Linked DNA regions of Homo sapiens: region 1 is linked to region 2. A link means that fine-mapping ties the variant in region 2 to the expression of a gene that starts in the linked region. Tissue or cell type: whole blood. Region 2 holds a variant in brackets; the other region holds the start of a gene. All regions are shown on one strand. Distances are from middle to middle.

The links. PIP is the estimated chance that this variant, and not a neighbour inherited with it, causes the effect.
Region 1: GAB2 starts here. The variant in region 2 is fine-mapped to the expression of GAB2 in whole blood (TOPMed, PIP 0.95).

Annotation. Positions count from the first base shown.
Region 1 is chr11:78,416,414-78,419,081 of GRCh38, reverse strand. It overlaps GAB2 (GRB2 associated binding protein 2), which reads left to right and starts at 1,262. Exons shown (of 10, transcript NM_080491.3): 1 at 1,262-1,436. The coding sequence starts at 1,362. RefSeq lists silencers at 873-1,492, 1,603-1,702, 1,773-1,902, 2,365-2,659 and an enhancer at 1,522-2,276.
Region 2 is chr11:78,353,878-78,356,724 of GRCh38, reverse strand. All of the region lies in intron 1 of GAB2 (GRB2 associated binding protein 2), which reads left to right. Among named protein-coding and RNA genes, the nearest start is that of GAB2, 63 kb to the left of the region's middle. RefSeq lists an enhancer at 1,422-1,571. The variant T/C (reference allele first, on the strand shown) is at 1,605.

The sequences.
Region 1 (2,668 bases), 62 kb before region 2:
ATGATGTCCAACTGCTTGAAACAACTCAGCTGCACAGAGACAGAAATAAACAAAACAGCTTTAGTCTGAGGTTGTGTGGGGCACTGCAAGATGCTGCTTCTCCAATTCATCTGTCCACACAGCACGGTTCCCCATTGAATAAACAGGTTACTATCCACTTATCAGAGAAGTTAGGGAGGACCTGCCTTTTAATGCTGCTTAGAGAGACACTTTGTGATGAGAAAAGAGCTCGTACAAAAGATTTTTTTCTCCCCCCTCCCGCTGAAGTGCTGGGGTTGTGTGCTTCCACGTACATCTGGGATACCATTATATTTACAAACAGAGGTCTCATAGCCTGTGTCAATGAGCGGGAACGTTGGGGAATTTGGACCCCAATTTCTTGTTCTTCTGCACTTGACCTTGCCTTCCAATTCGTTATGAAATACATTGACTAGTTTTGCTTCTTCCATTCTACAAATCATGCGAATTTTCTATACTAAACTGTGTTTTCCCAGAGGCAGTGTAGGAGGGAGTCAGCTGGACTTGGTTTCCAGGCAATGAGAGGCTCCCAGGTCGATCCCATTAAGGCAATGCCCTCATTTTGAATAGCAGATGACCGGGACCCCTCCTCCCCCACACACCTGAATTGGAAAATTGGCTCGGCTTTGTACAAGCCCTTGCCCTTAGGCTGTCCATAAAATAGGAACAATACTGAAGACAATCCTGTAAGCTACAAAAGCAAAGGCTCCGGCGCGTAGTAGGTCCGTCTCCTCCTCCCGCCGAGGGACGCCAGAGTTAAGGAGCTTCTTGCTGGGAAGGGGTCCCTCCTTTCAGCCGGAACCTGACCCGCAGAATGTATCGGAAATGTGAGCAGCCCTAGTATCCCTTCCCCGTCGACGCTCGGTGAAAAATCGATCGACGACCGAGGGCGCGCAGTCCCTTCCCCTCACACCCGCCAGCGCCAGGGGCGCGGTCGCCTCCCTGGCCTCCGCGCCCGCGGCTTGGGGCCTCAGGAGAAAGCGAGACTCCGGGGCGCGCCGGCGGCGGTGGCTTTCTGTATCCTCGCGGGTCCCTAGCCCCGCGTCCGCGTGCGCGGCGGCCTCGGGGGCGCGGCGGGAGCGGGCGTGGCGAGCGAGCCGGCCTTCCTGCTGCAGCTGCTCCCCCGGCGGCCGGGCGGAGAGTGCGGATTGCGCGCGCTCGGGGCGGGGGAGCGGGCGCGCGCGAGGCTGCCGGGCTCGCGCCGCGCCGCGCCGCCTAGTCCCCGCCGGGCCGCCCGCCCCGCCCCTGGCCTCCCGCGAGCTGCGCACCGCCGGCCGCTGCCCCAGCTGCCCGAGCCCGCGCCCTCGTCCGCGCGACCCGGCGGGGGGCTCCAGGCCGGCAGCATGAGCGGCGGCGGCGACGTGGTGTGCACCGGCTGGCTGAGGAAATCGCCTCCCGAGAAGAAGTTGAGGCGCTATGTGAGTGCGGGCGCGGCCGCCCAGGGGCGGGCGGGGGGCGCTCCGGGGCCTGCGGAGGGGCGGGGGACTCCCGGAGGGGCGGCAGGCTGGGGAGCTCGGGCCCGGAGCCGCGGGGGGCCGGGGGCGAGGAGCGGCCGGGGGCGTGTGGGGCACCTGCACACCTGTCACAGGTGGGCCGCCGAGGGGCGGGGCGGGCGGCAGGTTGAGGCTGCGGCTCCTGCTCCGCCAGGCGGGTGCGGCTGCGGCGCCTCCCAAGCCGGTCTGCTCGTGAACTAAATACAGTGTCGAAGTTTTGTATTGATGGCTTCTGGAGACCGAGAGAGTTGACTCTCGGGGCTGGGGCTCCGCGGCAGCCCCGAGCAGCTTCAGCCCGCAGGGTCGGGGAGAGGGCGGGAAAGGGGGGCGTAGGCTGTGGGGCCGCGCGGACGGCCCCACAAAGGGCGAGCGCCTCACGCCCTCTCCTTCCCTTTCTCCGCCTGCCCCTCCCGGCCGCCGGCCTCCCTCCGTCCGCGGCTGCATCACCGGCAGCGTCAGCGGCATGTGCAGCCCTTGTATTAAGTGACTCATTTGTTTGTCCCCCTTCTTTCCCTTTATTCCGTTCGTCTCTCACAGGCGCCTCCCCCCGACCCCGGTGTGACACTGCAGTTTGGTCCCCGTGGCTGGCCCGGGTTTGGGACCGGGCAGCTCCCGGGTGTCTGGGGTCGGGAGAGATCGAGGCTCTCCGCGGCCAGGTGTTGCCAACCGACAGTGTTTACTGAGATCGCTGGAACAGCCTTTTCCCTCTAGGTGGGGAACTGGCAGCCTGGGGGAGGTGGAACAGCGTGGCGCTGAGCCGTGGAGTTCTGGCTTTTTTTTTTTTTTTTTTTAACCCCTCTCCCCAGAGGATGCCTTGCCTGGTGAGGTCAAAGTACAAGATGGTGCCAGTTACTGAGATTTGGCCGAAATGGTCTTGGGGTAGTCGCGGGAGTTTGGAAGTGGGGGTAAGGTTGCTGGAAGGTTTCAAGGTCTCTCATCTGCTCCCTCTCCGTTTCCCATGAAATGCCCTTGTTTAACGGGCTGTGGTGCCGAACTCCGGGATCACTCCCACAGCCTGGAAGGGAGCCGTTGCCTCCAGCTGCAGTGCATCAAGGGAGCTCGGAATAGACCCTGCCCTCTGTCAGCTGCACCAGTGGCTGTCCATGGGGGGAGAGGCAGAAGCCTACCAGAATTTCCTGTCTTGGCTCCCCAGATCA
Region 2 (2,847 bases):
ACTTTTGTTCTCTACAGATTCCTTACTTCTTGACAGCATGACTCATTTTCAAAATTACTATTTAAGAATATTTTATTTAGCTTTTAAGTTGTTTTCTTTGGGAGTGTCATTCATGGTATCTAGGCTAACTTAATTGCTCAAAACCAAAGTCTTATACCTACTATAGGTGGACCAGAAGACAACCAGAAAGAACATAATTTGACTTTCTTTTGGGATGCTAAAAAGGGAAGATTCTGAGATATGAAACAATTAATATGTAGTTTTGCATGTTTTGATTCTTGAGGTCTGCTATAGGTAATATTTTTTTCCTTGCATGTGAGAAAACCTTAAGAATACTATAAGAAAACATAAACATTTCTGTCTTGCAGGATTTGGCATTGTTACCATGTTGTTAGTACTAACCTCTCACCCTCAAGTGCCCCAATATCCAGTAGTAGCATTTGAAACTTGTACAGAGATAACAAAATCATAAACTGCTTGAGCTGAAGGGGTCTAATTTCTAAACATCACCCCTTCCACCACTGTGTCTTTTTTTTTTTTTTCTTTTTTTTTGAGATGGAGTCTTGCTCTTTCACCCAGGCTAGAGTGCAGTGACATGATCTTGGCTTACTGCAACCACCACTTCCCAGGTTCCAGTGATTCTCCTGCTTCAGCCTCCTGAGTAGCTGGGATTACAGGCACACACCACCACACCCAGCTAATTTTTGTATTTTTATTAGAGACGGGCTTTCACCATGTTGGCCAGTCTGGTCTTGAACTCCTGACCTCAAGTGATCCACCTGCCTCGGCCTTCCAAAGGGCTGGGATTACAGGCATGAGCCACGAGCCACCACACCCAGCCACTGTGTCTTAAAGATGAGTTGGCTAAGGTTAAGTGACTGACCCAGCCAGGGTCCTATAAGGAGTTTGTGACATCAAGAACCTCAGTTGCCTCATTTTAATCTCAGTATACTTGGTACTTCTGTGTACTTTCTCTCTCTGAGAAGACCTGTGATCATTTAATGAGTTCTGAGCTTGGTCTTTTTTTTTTTTTTTTTTTTTTTTAAGTGAGACAGGGTCTCTCTCTGTTTCCCAGGCTGAAGAGCGGTGGCGCAATCATAGCTCACTATAGCCTCGGACTCCTGGGCTCAAGTGATGTTACTGTCTCAGCCTCTTAAAGCACTGGGATTACAGGCATGCGCCATCATGCCCCGCCTGAGCTTGGTCTCTTGAAATGTTGCTGTGGATGTTGATAAAGATGACCTGACACTGATACATGGGTCAGAGTAGAGGCAAGAATTCTCATCTGGTTAACTGGTGAAGATCAAATAGAGTTGGCCTTCCAAATACTATTTCACTCCTGTCTCTCCTGTTCATGGAATCTTTTTTGATAACAGAAGGTTACAGTTGGGTGGGAGAGCTCTTGTGATCATTCGTGCCAATCTCAAATTGCCCACAGGGACGTTTTGGGATCCCCTGCCCAGAAACTTTGCTGTTGTTTATAGATGAGGAAACTGAAACCTAAAAGATGTAAATATGGTTTCCCTCAAGTCACATAAAGTGCTTTTAGCAAAGCCAGAACTGGACCCACATCTCCTAATCCCTATTCCCGTGGAGGATCTCTA[T/C]TACACTAATGCATTAACTTCACTCCTGATCTTTAAGTAAGCTCCACGTCTGTGGTCTCTGTTTTAAGATTGTGAAATGTCATAAAGGTGGTTTGCCTTTGAAAATAAGCCAGAACCTAGAGAGTTAATAGAAATTGAACAGTGAAAGTGGAGTCCTTTTCTTCTCTCCTCAACTGGGGAGCCGCCAGGCTGTTTCACTTGCACCGCATGTGTTCCATTATGGTATAATGATGTAATTACCAGTAATGCTGCTGCTGCTTGAGTAGTGGTGAAGAGGCAGCATTAAGGAAAAGACTAGCCCCAGTTCTCTCCTAAGAGCCATTTCAGCCCACTTCAGTCTATTAGATTGAAGATGCTGGAAGGCGAATGGCTTCAGCACAGGAAAAGGTCAGATTTAAAAGCTTTTCTGGGTTTGGTATTTATTGTTGCTTTTTTGACCTTCAGAAAAGTCCCCTGTGTGTTTGTCCTTGATTCTTGCCTTTCCCATTAATGCTTGAAAGCTGTATTGCTGTCCAGACCAGGTCTTTGGCATAGATGATTTCCTTTGTGGTGTTAGAGAAAGCCTAGCCCCCACTCCAGATGACCAGTCCTGTTGTCGTTCATGCCACCATTGCAGTGTCAAAAGCCTTTTTAACTCTTGAACATTTTAGTTTTCAGCAATTCTGTATGTATATATATATAATATATATGTCATATATGATACAATACATATGATATGATACAGTACAGTACATATGGTCTGTACTAGTATCACATATTCTTTCACAAACTTGCCTAGATCTAAACAATTTATGAATTAATACTTTAAAATACAGAGAAGTAAGCAATAAGACTTGAGTGCCTTGAGCAAACCTTTCTGTGAATCTCTTTCAAAACGTACAGCCTGCCACCTGATGATTATGAGGAGGTAATCATGGTCTCTGGAACACAGTAGACACTTCCAAAAGTGTTCCTTTATTAGAGGGTAGCCATCATTCTTTCAATAATAAGCACCTGCTGGGCCCAAGGTACAGGTTATAGGAAGACAGCAAGTTTTCCTTATTTCAGTAGTTCTCAAAGTGCCATCCCTGGACCAACAGCACCAACATCACGTAAGATCCCCTGAGAAATGCAAATTCTCAGGCCCCCAAGCCAGAGCTACTGAATCACAAATTCTAGGCTGGGAGCCTTCAGTCTGTGTTTTACCAAGCTTTCCGGTGATTCTGATGCATACTGAAGTTTGAGAACCACTTCTTTATTTTGT